Linked DNA regions of Homo sapiens: region 2 is linked to region 1. A link means that fine-mapping ties the variant in region 1 to the expression of a gene that starts in the linked region. Tissue or cell type: whole blood. Region 1 holds a variant in brackets; the other region holds the start of a gene. All regions are shown on one strand. Distances are from middle to middle.

The links. PIP is the estimated chance that this variant, and not a neighbour inherited with it, causes the effect.
Region 2: NCOA7 starts here. The variant in region 1 is fine-mapped to the expression of NCOA7 in whole blood (INTERVAL, PIP 0.92).

The regions. Positions count from the first base shown.
Region 1 is chr6:125,834,240-125,842,426 of GRCh38, reverse strand. All of the region lies in intron 2 of NCOA7 (nuclear receptor coactivator 7), which reads right to left. Among named protein-coding and RNA genes, the nearest start is that of NCOA7-AS1, 19 kb to the right of the region's middle. The variant G/C (reference allele first, on the strand shown) is at 4,410.
Region 2 is chr6:125,786,882-125,795,068 of GRCh38, reverse strand. NCOA7 (nuclear receptor coactivator 7) reads right to left here and starts at 4,109. Exons shown (of 16, transcript NM_181782.5): 1 at 4,002-4,109. RefSeq lists enhancers at 3,527-3,626, 3,822-4,322, 4,323-4,823 and silencers at 3,847-4,686, 5,277-5,376.

The DNA.
Region 1 (8,187 bases):
CAACAGCAATATATTGCAGTGACATAATTCTGGAAGAACAGCAAAATGTTGTTTTCTTGAAGACATTTTAGTCAAACACAAAGCATACTATCTTGAAAAATCTCAAGCAAGCACAAACTCAATGATGCCAGCGACTCTGTCATCCAATTTTAACTGACTTTCCCGTTAACTACTTAAACTGTAGAAATATTGAGGGAAATAAGGGCTAAAATACAGAATCCTGAAACGAATCAGTTTAGTATATAAACTAATACTCTACTGAAAGCCTCGTAAGGGAAACATAGTTTATGATCAGCAGAAATGGCCTGATGACAGAAAACACTTATAAGTAGCATAAAATTAGAATATGTTCTAGCTTAACTTCTCTCTCCTCTCAACTTTAAAAAATAAACTCTTATATTAATCTGACATTGCTTTTGAATAATTTTAGACATACGTACCCTTTTATGATAATATACTTTCATTGTCATAAACTAGAAGTGACCTCATAAATCATTCTGTCATTACAGGTACTTTCAGAAAGAATAATCTAATATCAGGTATGAAATTTTAAAACTTATTTTGGCAGATGCTCTCAATTTAGTTGGTTTACATCCAACATGTCCATTCAACATCTTAGAGGTATTTTTTCCAATTGCTACATGCTGGCTACTGCTTGGGAAGTGATGTTGCTCAAAAACAGAATTTCTGGGGTGGTAGACTGGTAGTACCTACTCTAAATTTTTTTCCTTCTAAAGTTAGTGCAGAACTCTGAGTCTGGATAATTCATTCACATGTAAAGGCAAACCCAAAATAGATTTTGAAGAAAAATCTTGGCCTTGCTTTCATCTTTCTGAGGGTGCATTTCCATGACAATGACCATCCAATCACAAGACGGTCTTGATCACGCTCTTAAAAAAAAATCCAACAATGGCCACCTCTCAAGTTACCAGTTTGATTTTAACCAACCACAGGTTGTGGTATAACAAAAAATAAATAAATATAATCATGCCTTGCTAAACGACAGGGATACATTCTGAGAAACGTGTCATTAGGTGATTTTGTCATTATACAAACATTATAGAATATACTTACTACAAACCCACATAGAATAGCCTATGACACACCTAGGCTATATGGTAGAACCCATTGCTACTAGGCTACAAAACTGTACAGCATGTTACTGTACTGAATCCTGTAGGCAGTTGTAACCAGTAAGTATTTGTGTATCTAAACAGGTGTAAAAACATAAAAGGTAGGCCAGGCGCGGTGGCTCACACCTGTAATCCCAGCACTTTGGGAAGCCGAGGCAGTGGATCTCTAGGTCAGGAGTTCAAGACCAGCCTGGCCAACAAAGTGAAATCCTGTCTCTACTAAAACTACAAAAATTAGCTGGGCACAGTGGCAGGTGCCTGTAATCCCAGCTACTCGGGAGGCTCAGGCAGGAGAATCATTTGAACCTGGGTGGCAGAGGTTGCAGTGAGCCAAGTTCATGCCACTGCACTCCAGCCTGGGTGACAGATTGAGACTCTGTCTCAAAAAAAAAAAAAAAAAAAAAAAAAAAAAAAAAAAAAAAAAACCAACCAAACAAAAAAAACCATAAAAGGTAAAATAAAAATATGGTATTAAAAAATGGTGTCCAGGCACGATGACTCAAGCCTGTAATCCCAGCACTTTGGGAGGCCAAAGCAGAAGAACTGCTTGAGCCCAGGAGTTTCAAGACCAGCCTAGAAAGACCCTGTCTCTACAATTTTCTTTTTTTTTTATTTAGCCAGGCATGGTGGCATCCTGAGTAGTTCCAGCTACTCAGAAGGCTGTGGTGGGAGGACCACCTGAGCCTGGGAGGTTTGAGGCTACAGTGAGCTATGATCATGCCACTGCACTCCATCTGGGGCAACAGAGCAAGACCCTGTCTCAAAAAGAAAAGAAAAAATGATATACCTGTATAGGGTCCTTACCATGTATGGTTGCTGCTCTTGGGGAGTCAGAGAGTGAGTGGTGAGTAAATGTGCTTACTGTGCTCTACTGCAGACTTTCTAAACACTGTATACTTAGGCTGCACTAAATTTATATAATTTTTTCCCTCATTCAATAATAAACTACCTTAGCTTACTATAACTTTTTTACTTTATCAGTTTTTAAATAACTTTTTGATATTTAGCTAAAAATATAAACACATTGTATAGCATACAAAAATATTTTCTTTATATGCTTATTCTATAAGCTTTTTTCTATTTCTAAAATTTTTAACTTTTTTGTTTTACTTTTTAAACTTGTCAAAAGCTAAGACATAAACACAGAGGGTCTACACAGGGTCAGGAACATCAACGTCATTGTCTTCCACCTCCACATCCTGTCCCACTGGAAGTTCTCAGGGGCAATAACACACAGGGAAGTATCCTCTCCTATGATAACAATGCCTTTTTCTGGAACACCTCCTGAAAGACCTGCCTGAGGCTGTTCTGTTTAGCTTTTTTTTTTTAATAATCAGAAAACACTCTAAAATAATAATAACTAGTGTAGTAAATACATAAACCAGTAACACAGTCATTTATCATCATTATCAAGTATTATGTACCGTAAATAATTGTATGTACTATGCTTTTCCACAGCTGGCAGTACAGTGGGTTTGTTTACACCAGCATCACTGAGTAATGTGTTGCACTATGACGGTGACAATGTTACTGGATGATAGAATTTGTTAGCCCCATCATAATCTTATGGAACCACCATCATAAATGAGGCCAGTGGCTTATGTGGAACATTACTGTATTTGGTCTTTGTCCCCAGGTTCCTGGCACAGACTTCCTAAAACACTGGAATCTCGTGAGTGATAAAGAGCGTCTTTTGTATTCTCATGAGATGACTCAAAGCTGCGGAGGGAGGGAGGTGCCTCGAGAGCTTCTAGATGGGGTCTAGCCACCAGAAAGATCCAGCCAGGATTAAAAGGTTGGAACTTTCAGCCCCACCCGACAGTCCACTTCTCAAGAGGGGAGGGGACAGCAGATAGAGTTAAATCACTAAGGCCTAGGCCTCGCGCAGTGGCTGACTCTTGTAATCCCAGCACTTTGTGAGGCTGAGGTTGGACTGATTACTTGAATCAGGAGTTCAAGACCAGCCTAGCCAAAATGGTGAAACCCCATCTCTACTAAAAATACAAAAATTATCCAGGCGTGGTGGCATGCACCTGCAGTCCCAGCTACTTGGGAGGCTGAGGCAGGAGAATTGCTTGAACCCGGGAGGCAGAGGTTGCAGTGAGCTGAGATTGCTCCACTGCACTCTAGCCTGGGTGACAGAGTGATACTCTGTCTCAAAAACAAACAAACAAACAAACAAAAATCACCAAGGGCTAATGATTTAATCAATCATGCATAGGTAATGAACCTCCAAGAAAAACCCTTAAATGTCGAAGTTCTGAAAGTTTCCAGGGTGATGAACACACTATGCGTCTGCGAAGGTGGTGCACCCAGAGAGGGCATGGAAGCTTGTTGGCACCACCCCTGAATCCCCCAACCTACCACCCCTGAGTCCCCCATACCTTGCCCTCTGCCTCTCTTCCATTGGGCTGTTCCTGAGTTATATCCTTTATAATAAACTGGTTAAGTGTAAGAAAAGTGTTTTCCTGAGTCCCCTGCGCAGTTCTAGTGAACTCTCAAACCTGAGGAGGCGGTCATGGGAAACCCCAAATTTGCAGTCAAGGTGGACAAAAGTACAGGTGGTCTGGGGACCTGGGACTTACAACAGAGCTCTTAAATCTGTGGAGTCTGAGGCTAACTCTGAGAAGTTAGTGTCAAAATTGAATGGAATTGTTGGACACTCAACTGGTGTTGGAGAACCAGAGAACACCTCTAGTGAAGGAAATAAAAGCATTTCACTCCAGAATATGCTTCTTTGACATGTTTTGAGATGGCTGTTCAGAGGGCTTGCAAACAGAAGTACCCCTGCAAAGCTGTCTTTCATGGGGGAGTTTTGCATCAATCCAGCCAGGTCTTCCCTTGTCCTGATCTAGGAAAGATTTAACTGAGAGTCGGACACCTTTAAAGATCTGAAAGAAGCATTTACCACCTATCCTCTCTGATGGCTGCCACCTATCAGGTTTCATCTGTATAACAAGACTACCTTCACAAGCCAGGCCTCCTCCTCTTCTTTCCTTCCCCATAATCTATCTTGCCACTGTAATCTTGATTTTTGGCCATGCCCTGAGCCCCATTCTTTCCGTGACCTCAAGATGGTATAGAAGCTTCTGCACCCCATTGTAGGCTTGGGTAAACACTTCATGGTCTCCCAAACACTTGGGTTCTCCTCATGAATGTTAAAAAAAAATTGTATGCTTCTCTCTTATTAATCTGCCTTTTATGAGTTCATTTTTCAGTGAAGCTTCAGAGGGTGAAGGGGAAGTTTTTCCTTAGCCCCTAGAGAGTTAAGGACTA[G/C]GAAGGGCTTTGTTATCAAAGGGACTGGCGTGTGCTCTACTCATTAAGAGGAAGAAATATGGGAAGGAGTCCCTTTTTAACACCGACCATGAAGTAGTTCTGCATCAGTCATACAACTAAGAGCAGCATGCAATTTACTGTCCCATTTTTCATGCCAATTTATATGTTCCCTGGTCTGGACTTTCCATTTTTAAATAGTATATCGTAATTTCTTTAATAAGTGCAATGATGAGAAAATATAATAGCATATGGATGATCTCAGCCTCCTTCCTCATGCTGCCTCCTAAGGGAACTCTGGGTTTGTTTCCTTTTCCTGGTTCTGAGCTTATGAACACAGGTGTGGGAAATGAATTAGGGGGAGAAGTGGAAAAAGAAATATAGTGAGAGAAGAAATAGAAGAAAATAAACCTAAAAGGAAAGAAGGGGAAAAGGTAAGGACATGAGGAGATACACTGACTGGATATGGGAAGGGTTTCAAAAAGGAGAAAGAGTTTGGGGAAGTAGCTGAGAGACATGTAAAAGGTCAGAGAGATGGAGAAAGAGGATTTTAAAGTTTTATCAAATATATGGCATTTATTACCCCCTTGGATGTTTTCTGAAAGGTGAAGTAAATATTTATTTTCAATTATTTTCTCTGATATACTTATTTCTTTGAATGTGACTTAATCCTGGGACTGGACCAAGGCATGGCTGGTTATACACAGGTGACACACGTGTACTTTTCTGAAGATGCCTTAAAGGTGGAGCATGTATGAATGAATGAATGAATGAATGAGAAACAAACTTCAATCCGGGAAAGATGAAGCAGGCTAATTATAAGTTATCTATGTCAAATTTCATAAATTGATATAAACCTTGAATCAGACCATGTTACATAGACTTTTAGGCTAATTTCTCAAGCAAAGTCGCTTTACACACATACAATGAGAGAAATCAAACTTCACTCAACATTTATCTAATTTAAAGAATAATGTAAGGTATTTTGTGAGGAGATAACTACCCCAAGACCTAACAATTCCCCACTGCTTGAACACTTTGCCCCAAATGGAGAGCTGGAATTTCCTATCATAAATGTTTCTTCATACTTAATATGTCACCTGGCACACACAGGTGCAACCAACTTCCTAATATGAAATTAACTAAGTTATCAAGCACCCTCTCCAGTAGCAGACTTTACCAAGAAAGTTTTGCTTTGATTTTACTACGTGTTCTTTTTTATTTTTTAGTAGTTGTTGATAAAAGGCAAGGTAATTTCTCATAGATGTGTACTTGTTTATGTGGTTTTAAATGTTCTGCTCCCAGGCATTCCTTTTAATTTCAATACAGTTTCTAAAACTCTCTTGAACATTTGTAATGTTGGAATAATAGTCATCCAAATTTCCTGTGGATTTCCATACTCCTGCATTAAGCCATAAGAAAACTCAGCTGGACTTTATTTTGGCTGAGTTAAAGGCGGTTTTGAAGAAAACCAAAATGGAATGATAACAATATTTTATCAGATGGGGGAAAATAAATATGTTTTTAACTATTACTGAGACTCTGCAGGGAGTATATCAGCTACAGTTCAAACAAAAGCCAAATCAGGGAAAATTTCATTGCTGTTTGTATGGATTAGACCAAAGAATCTTCAATCTTTAATCATCTACATCAAAGGGTCCCTTAAAAAGAGGGGCTCAATATTTTAACGCATGTATACATTACAACTTCACAATGGCATCAGCAAAAATGAAAATTCATATTTACCAACCATTATGTCCCTGGCATGACAACTATACATTTTTTAAAGTGCTCTTTATTCATAAATTAATTTTTCTATATTCAGATACTGTTTTAGTGGAGTTGTGGTATTAAACACTAAATTGAGTTTTCTGAATTCTACATAAAGCTGTCACAATATTAAAAATTCTAAAACAGTTTAAGATGAAAATATAATTACCTAAACTAATGAAAGAATTTGTACCTTTTCCATTTTGTTTCCAAGAAGCGTAAATCATAGAATCTCAAGTAGGAAAGTTCTTTAAAGGTTATCTTGTCAAATCATCCATTCAATGATGGAATTAACTATGATATTTACAGTGACATGTACAGTGTCTAAAAACTCACTGAGACTCAAAGCATGTCATTCTCCTTTTTAAAAGCTTTAAATCCAGTGCCTAGTACAGTGCCTGACATACTACAGAAAACTGCAGTAGATTTCAATGGCCTCCCTACAATCTATTCCTTATTCTGTAATACCAGATCTGGGTAGGACTCATCCTAGCTCCAGGAAGGACATCTTTATGTGGGCCTGTCCAATCAAAGCACTGAGTCTCTGCCTCTGCCAGTGGCAGCCACTACTCCAAAACCTAGCACCGGCTCTAAGTTGGTCCAATCCCTGTGAGTCTCAGGACTTGTGAGACCTAATAGCAAGCATTTGCTTTGCCTGCTGTTGCATAATAGAGATTCTGACTTAGCAGCATTTATCAAGTAAAGCCTGAAAAAGGAAGCTAAAAGAAAGGAAGGATTTAGATACAGACAAACTGAGTCATAATGACATTATTTGAGTCCCAAATCCAGGCATTCCTGATGTCAAATCTTATCTGGGACTTTTTACTTATGTGAACCAGAAACTCCATATTCCTTTTTTTTTTTCTCCTAAGGTAGTCTGATCTGTTTTCTGTTACTTGACCTAGAAAGGGGAAAGAGCTTCCTGACTATTACAGGAATTTGCGTAAGTAAGGTTGCTCCATGCCAACAACACAAAAATGTGGATTGGCTGAGCTGGGTTTGGATGATACTTGGAAACTTAGCAGTCTTTATCACATGAAAATAACATGGATAGCTGTTGTATCTTAAGATTAGATTGTGTGCCTATCAAGGCTGCATTATTGGGGAACTCAGGAAATTTTAAAGATTCTGGAATAAGTGTTCTACCTCTTTTAGCCTGAGAAAAGAAAAGAACTTTTATCTGGGAAATATACATCCTTTTAAATTATCAGGCTGCAGAGACACTAAAATGAGACTGCAATCACATCTTACTTCCCGCTGGAGCTATGTATTCATCTCCAGAACCAGCCTGCTATTGCCACAAGCAGCTATAAATTAATCTAATAATGCCACACCAGACACTATAACTTAATGCATAGCCAATCACTAATCAATGCTATTTCTGTAAGCCAACAAGAATTCCTGGCACATCACTTTGTATCAGCCCACTTCCTATCTCTTTTTTGCCTTTAAAAATCAACTTGTAACTGCTGCTAATCAGAGTGTATATTCAGGGCATCTTCAATCTATGCTCCTGGGCTACAATCCTCAAGTTTGGCTCAAATCAACTCTACCTGCATTAATTTTGCCTCAGCTTCTTCCTTTTAGGTCAGCAAGACTTCAGTGAGGTCTTAAAAGAAACACGCAAGCTTGAGATATCATTGGTCTGCTAAAGTAGAGTGAGATGAAAGCACAACTCTGCTAAGAGAAAACCTCTGTCTGTGGCTTGCAGCAGCTGAGAGTCTGGTGACCCTGGTTAAATAACAACCTCTTAAGACCTCAGTAGCTCACCTCTACCAAGAAGTTAGCTTAGGTTGTTTTTAAGATATTTTCCATCCCTAAATGTCTATAACAATAAACAACTAAGTAAATAAATGAATCTAGATCATATGGGGATTATCTGATGAACAAAAATCTTCCGTTTTTTTAATCAAACTTTAAAGAATTTTCTTTTACCTACAAGGGATTAATTATACTATGTTCACATGTATTTAATAAGTATTATTTACATTTTAAAGTCACTTTAGTTTTC
Region 2 (8,187 bases), 47 kb after region 1:
TCAAAACATCAGTATGAAGAATTAACTCCAGGAGCTCAATCTTTTAAATTTCATGGTAAATAAAAGAGGCTCAGAGAAGACTCTGATTTATTAAAACAAGGATAAATCACATGAATCACTGACGCGAAGGTCAGATTGTCGATTCACTCTGGTGAGTGTTATGCTAAGTTAGGCTAGCCCTTCAGCTAAAAATGACTTTATTCTATTGAAACTCCTGTTCAACCTATATAGCGTTTAAGGCAGGTACTCCAAATATAATTGACTTAAATTGAATGGCTTTATTAATTTCAAATTAGTAATGAGTGAATATAAATGTAAGAGTTTAAAAAAAAGTTTTGTAAAACTATGTAACATTGTTTTCCATTTGGCTAAGTTCAAATGTACTAAATTTGCAATTCTTGTTCAAAACATTTAATGTAACCCATTAAACTTGTTCATCAAAAACATACTGTGTCCAGAGATCAATTGTGCAATGGCTTCATTTATTTGGTTTTATGTTTTATAATCTGCCTTGTTCCACAAAGGATATGAGTCATCTTAAAAGAATATAATTCAATCAAATGGAAAAGTATAATTAGATAAACATCAGAATCAAGAAAAACAAGGTAGAACAGAAGCTCAAGACCATAGGAAAAGATAAAATATTGATATTAGGTTATGAATTTTTATATGATTATTAAAATTGAGTTGCAAATTTGTTCATTTCCTAGTTGCCAAGTTAGAAAGGGAAATATAATCAATGATTTGATTCTCATTTTGCATGATGAAAAGAACACACACAAACACACACACACAAGTTGTTCAGGGTAAGTAAAGCTTTTCTTTGGCATTTAAAGTTAAATGGAATTTCTTGCATGAGTCTTCAAACAGAAACTATAGAAAGTACCATGATCATAACCACATTTCGAAAGTAACATAATAGTAAGTTTCCTCTGACTGTATTAATAAAATCCCTCAGTGTGGGCATATGGGGGGGTGTTAAGGATGCAAAACAAGGTACCAAAGTACAGCTTCTGAAGATCTGGCTAGACTTCTGGTCTAACAGCTAGTATTGGAAGGGAATAGGTTGACGTCATGGCCTTTGTTCAGCCAACCCCCCGTAAACATCATTTCTCTCAATTAAGCTTCTGATCAAATTTAGCAACAGAAAATTCATATTCTCTGGCATGTACAGAAACAAATGCATTTTGTATCACTGTTGAGGGGAGACCAGTAGACAACAATCACTCTTTATGTATTCACTATATCTGAAATTCAAGGTCATACAAATTTACTTCTGTATATTTTTTTCTGCAATCAACAATTCTGATTTTAGCACAAGTGAATTGAGTGGATCCTGTTGAATTTAAACAAACAAAAAATTATGGGCTGGGATTTTAAAAACAATAGTAAATGGCATTTAGCAAGAAAGGAATAGAGGTTTCTAAAATACAGCCTTTAGGAAGATAAAGAGAGGAAATCCAGGTCTTGGATTGCATTCTGGTGGTGCTTGTGGGGGCGGAGTGCTGGGGGATCAGGAGGTAGGACCCAAAAGTGAGTCAACCAATCCCAGAGGCACTGCGCATTTGGTTGTAGGACACACAGAAGAGAAAAATACCTCTTCAAATCTGAGATTAGAGCTTTTATTTGACTGTGATTCCAAAGCCAAAGTAATAGCAGTTAAACTGAGCAGTTAAAGGCTCAACTCCTACTTGTAAAATGAACAAATAAGTGCTTATAAGTAACAAGGTAAAGAGAGCTTACTGTAACCAAAGGGGAGGGCTTTTTTGAAAAGCTTAAAGTGTGCAAGGAAGAGCCAGGTAAATTAATTGCTCAATACCCTGGGTTACAAATTTAAGAAGTGTAAAATGTAATTATCTTTATTACAGGAGGGAATTTTGGCTTTGTTTTAATAAATCATAACAAATTAATTTTTTTCATAAGTTCCCTCCCACTGTTGGTTCCTGCAGTCTTATTAACTTTTATAGGAAAGTTTTATTTCCTTATCCATCTAGGAAGAAAATAAGTAGGTTGGAGAAGCAATAGTAATAAAGTATGGCCTACCATATTGTGTAAAAATAAGTCATTTGAGTAATATGAAGTGAAGATGGTAAAGATGCATTAAAATGTCAGAAAGAAAACCTGGGAGCATGCCCAGATAATATTGTTAAGCAGAGACTGAAAGAAGTTCACACTGACTCATGAAATTCATGTGATGGAAAAAAGATGAAATCAAAACAGAAAATGTCATAGTGTAAAAATAAAGCAAATAAAGTTTGATGCAGTTAACCTTGTTTTTCTTTTTTTTTTTCAAAATGATATAACATTTTAAAGCAGGAAGACACTGTATCTTGCAAACCCTCATTTCACAATCCCCTGGCTGTCAAATTTGGAAACTGATGTGTTTCTATACCGAGGAGAAAACAGTTTAAATTGTGTATCTATATCACACATTTTGAATCATTTAAGAATCACAGACACTTCTACATGTTTTATTTCTACTTTTGCCTGTGATAAAAGACATGATAATTAGATCAAACCTGAAAAACTCAACTCTAAAATAAGTGAATACATCACTTATTAACCAAATCATTGTTTCCTCTGGCGTAACTTACAATTTTCTTTAAAACACGACTTTTACTTTTTAAATTGTGTTTGAGAGCACAGTTGAAGTTGGCATGATTACCAGTGAGACTGGAAATTTTGCAAGCTTAGACATGAAATGAACTTAAGAGTTGGGGAGAATTACCTCATAACCTTGATGACATATTACAGAAAGATAGCATATGGTCCTAAAGATGTCAGAATTGAAATATAAATGTTAAAATAACTGAGTTTGCCTATTTATACAAAGAGGCAATTTTTGAAATTCAATTAAATTTCACCGGCTACAGAACAATTCTGTGATTCTAAATTGTGGTTTTTAGATGAAAGCTTGAAACACAGTTCATTCATTCAACAAATAACTAATGGGTACTTATTCTGCATAAGATGCAGAAGATTACAGGATTTAAAAAAAAACAGATTCAAGATTCTGTCCTATTTGAGCTTATACTGAGTCACTTCTCCAAATCTCTATACCTAAGTGACTATAAAATTGGAGCTTACAGTGATGCATTTTTCAAAACTTTAAGCCTTATTGCTGAATATAAAATAAAAAATGATAGTCTGGGAAGAGGGAATCTTGCCAAAAGCTCTGATGTATAAACTTTACACCTAGAGGAGAAAAAAAGCATTAATACATAACCAGTTTCTGAGAAATACAGAGCATAACATCGAGTTGGAAGTTAGGCTGGGCACAAGGCTGCCTCTGCTGGCTGACCCGGTACATCTTTCCAGCAGAATCTCAACTCCCGACACCTGTATCAAAGTTGCCACTCTTAAAACACATCCCTTCACGTAAGCAGAGGCTCCTAAATACTCAGCACAACAATATCCCAGCCTCATCGATCTCCAGAATAATCTGACTTCTAGAAGGACCTTCTCTAAATTGGCCCTAACGTGTTGACGGTAAGGGTTTGCCCCATCGATTTTATATACCAACTAGCTAGCTCTGAAATACACAAAAATCCACAGCGACTTCTACATGCCACTAATAACCCTTTGCCTGTCTACATGTTTTGGCTAGAAAGATGGGAAGAACGCATCTGCTAATCCAGCCGGAAAAACACAGTGACATATTTCCACCTGAGCTGCTGAAAATCCAACGGTCTTCTCCCCAAATAAGCCCCATGCCAACCTGTCCTCCCCACTCTCGTACTGGCGCGCACCCCCACGAGCCCCCCAAGGGGTGGGCGGGGAAGGGTCAATCTCTCCTTCGCCCCCGCTCGGCCTCCCGAGCTCAAGCAGAGGTTTTCAGGTTCACAGGGGGCTACGCCCAGCGCCATTAGCACACCTCCGAGCGCTCCACCGAGCCCCCGGCGGGAGGCAAGTTTGGCCGGTCCTGGACCCTGCTCGCGGCCTCTCGGCGGCAGCATCAGCGGCGGGCGGCGGCGAGGGCTGGGCCCCGCCTCACCACCTACCTACAGGGCGGGGGCGCCGGCTCCTGGGGTCCGGGAGAAGGGGATCGGTCGCATGCATTTCTGGGAGCGGTGGCCTCTGCTGCTGGGCGCCGGGGAGCGCATCCTCTCGGCGGGTGGAAGGAGGGGTCAGGGGAGGACCGTACGCCGAGGAGGAGCAAGAGGAGGAGGCGGGAGCTCCGAGGCGCGCGCCCGCGGGGCCCCGCGTCCGGATCGGGTGTGCGCAGCCGCCGCAGTCGGGGTGTCTTAGGCCTCTTCCCACGCGCGACGCCTCGCCAGCCCCGCAGCTGCGCCCCCCGTCAGGGCATGGGCCGCTACGGGGTCCCGGGCCCGGCTGAAGGCGGGCAGTCACGGGTGGCGCGACGCTGTGCAGACGCCCGCCTCTAGCTCCTCCCGGCCAGTGGCGCGCGCTGCGCCTCACAGCGGTTGCGGGGGCCTGGGAGCTCGCGCCGGGCTCTGCCGCTCGGACTGCAGTTGCGGCATCCTCCCCGCCCCCCGCGACCTCCGAGCTGGGAGGCTGGGCACCCCGGCTACCCGCGGCTGCTGCAGCCTCCGCTGCCGCGATCCCGGCGGCTCCGCCCCGGAGAGCTGCGCGTGCGGCCTCCGCAGGCCTCGGCCCTTTGTGGCGCCTCCCGAGTGCGGGCGCCTTGCTGCCCCAGCGAACCGCCGCCTGGCAGCGGCACCTAGGAGGGTCCTCTTACCTCACCCCGGGCCGCTTCCCCCTTACAGTTGGCCCGCCTGGCCCCTACTCTTCGTGGGAAGTAAGGCTTTGACAGCAGAGCAGGAGTTAGAGCTTTTCCCCAGCTTTAAAGCCCTTTGACTTTCCTTCCAGCTCAGGACCGATGGCCACAATAAATTCATCCTGTGTCCCTTCTGGCGTTGCGTTTAACAGAGGGGCCCACCATCTCCTTCCCCCTCCCGTTCCCGGTACACCATCCTGGATGCTGCCAAATTGCAGTCATTACAGCAATAAGAACATAGCAGTTGGGCCCTCCAGCCGACTCTTGGCAGAGACTCGAGAGAACCTTGGAGGGGGAAGGTTTGCATCAGCTGCGGGGCCTGTGCCTGTGAGCTCCCCATCCCCAGTTGGGTGCTGTTCCCTCTGCGGTCCCATGACCAGCACTGCAACATGACTAGGAGGATCTGGCCGTGGAGTTCATTCACTCTTATACGCAGAAAAATATCCCAAGGAAGGGCCTGCAACTACTCTGTTAACAGTGTGTTACAGGCCTTCCACACAGATAAACTAGATAGCAGCCTCCTCTGGGTTGTTGACGCAGCTTAAGCTGTAATAACCTCTCTGGAAGGCGGAGCAAAGCGTTAACAGTGGTGGCTTTGGCATTTCAGCAGCAGGTGGTCATGTTATACTGTCTTGCAAATGTGGAATAATTGCCCAGTTTTGCACTAAGCACGTATTAATTTAGACGTCAGGTTTATATCTTTGGGATTTGAATGTAAAGATGTTGGATTTTTTTTTTCTGTAGCCATTGTGTTATTTGTAAATTGTTTAGCATTTAGTAAGGGAAAATTAGGTTCCTAAAGTATAAAGAGCTGATTGCATTGTATCAAAGGAACATGGTTTGAGATCTCCAGGGAAGCTGAGCTGCTCTCACAGTTCTTTGATGAGTGCTTTTATGATTTTGCAATCTAAGGTTATTGAAAATCAGGCAAAAGAAAAACATGTTCCCTGGCAAGGACAAATTGTGACTAAATAGCTAAGATTTTTTGAGATAGTTCTTTTAAGCAAATTGAAGGTTGGGTGTGAGGCCCTGTGGGAGCTGCACTGCGCTTGTCCAGGAAGCACCCAGTGGGGTGTGACTTGGCTGCTTCCTGACACTGGTTGATCTAGAGCCCCACTTTATTTTCAAAAGATAACTATTATTATTTATGATATTTTCCCAAACTTAGAATTACTTGATTATAGGAATATGTATGTACATATCTGATGTATAAGTAACACGTTGAAGTCACTTAGGAGAATTTGGCAGTTGCTTACTCTTTAACAAAATTTTTAAGTTTTGAATGTAGTTTCTGAAGGAAGTGTCCATTGACTTACAAGTTTTCCCTGTTTCTCATCCTTTTACTATCAAGAGGCCCCTGTTGTTTTTCTCTCTATGGACTCCATGTTTTGTAAATAAATTAAGCAGTGATGTTTTTATTAGACAAAAACCTATAACTGAGTATGAATTTTTAAAGTTGTGACCATCAATTATAAAACGTCAGTCTTCTGGCCAGGCGCAGTGGCTCACGCTTGTAATCCCAGCACTTTGGGAGGCCGAGGCGGGCGGATCACGAGGTCAAGAGATCGAGACCATCCTGGCCAACATGGTGAAACCGCATCTCTACTAAAAATACAAAAAAAAAAAAAAAAATTAGCTGGGTGTGGTGGGTCCTGTAGTCCCAGCTACTTGGGAGGCTGAGGCAGGAGATTCACTAGAAACCGGGATGCAGAGGTTGCAGCGAGCGGAGATTGCACCACTGCACTCCAGCCTGGTGACAGAGCGAAACTCCATCTCAAAAAAAAAAAAAAGGTCTTCCAAAGATATTGCAAGGAATGTAAGAATCCATCTTTATGAACTCCTCTAGGACTGCATGCTGTATCATATGCTTCTTATAACATTTTTATTATACTGAAAGTCCTGATATAATAAAGATTTCTGCTCCCCAGCTAAGGGAGTACAAACTCCTCCTAAAGATTCTTCACTTGTTCCTTTCCATTAACTGATTTACCTAAGCCTTGGCTTTATAGATAAATCGGAAGAAATGAAACTCTTCCTTGCATGTGTTGTCCAGTACTGTATGCCTTAGCTACTTGTAGCCGTTTAAATTTAAATTATGGCTAGACTGTGCTTTTGGATAGCACAAACTAGAACATTTTCATTATTGCAGAAAATCCTTTTGAACAGTGCTGCCCTAAATAGAAGGTCAAATTTTAATTGGGAGATAAGATATAATACATGAAATAATTTGGGAAATCTTAGTATACTACAGATCAAACCTCAGTAGAAAGTGTACTTCTTAAGAACATGGTAATCTTTAAGAATTCAGGCTCTGGCTTCAGACTACAGCTCCACCACGTGCTGACCTTGGGTAAACTACTTAACCTCAGTTGCTTTATCCGTAAAGGATATGCTTTATCCATAAAGAATGGTAACAGTACCAACTTTATAGGGTGGATATAGGAATTAAAGGAGATAATCCCAAGTGGTTCTTAAAGTCTAGAATGTGGCCATCAATCAAAGGTATTACTAGAATAATATACTTTATTATGATAAAGTTTTTAAAAATGGTATCCCTAACACTTTTCACTGTTCTTGGCTGCGGAAGTTACTTGGTAAATGCTGAATTAATGAAAAAATATAATACCACACTGATTTTATGGCTGTGAGGGCCACCTTTAAATATGAAAACTGGCCTTTCTCTGTTGAAGGGTATGGGCCATTGGAGGATAATTTAGGTGGATTTGTCATTTAACTTTTGCAGGAATAAACAACCTTTGTATGATGAGACTTTGGAGTAGATAAGAGAAGCAGAGATCCCTTCCTCTCTTAAAGGAAGAAGAGAGGGATCACTTCACTCCGCCATTTGTTTGTTTCGCTGAGCCTGTGGGAGGCAGCTGGATCTCTGGGTTCAGGCAACAGGATTTCTCCCAAGTGATTTTCTAGAGGGCTAAGGTAGGCGGGCTTAGAGAAACATTGCCAAACAGTGGCAATCCTGCAAATGTGTTCGGTATTTTTCTTACCTATCTATCTAAAGACAATTCTTGTAATGAAGAAGCATGATTAGTATTTCTGTTTTTGAATACAACACTAGTAATGTCTCATGAAACTAGAATTCTAAAAATATTGGCAAATATTGCTGTAACATTGCCCAAATGAAAGGCTCCTGAGTCTCTGGTTGATCTAGAGCTCTACTGTATTTTCTTTTCTGTTTTTTTTTTTTTTTCTTCCAGACAGGGTCTCATTAGGTCACCCAGGCTAGAGTGCAACCTCCAACTCCCAGCTCCATTGATCTTCCCACCTCAGCCTCCCAAGTAGCTGGGACTACAGTCATGTACCACCACACCCGGCTAATTTTTGTATTTTTTGTAGAGATGGAGTTTCGCCATGTTGCCCAGGCTGGTCCCAAACTCCTAGGCTCAAGCAATCCATCTGCCTCAGTCTGCCAAAGTGCTGGGACTACAGACATG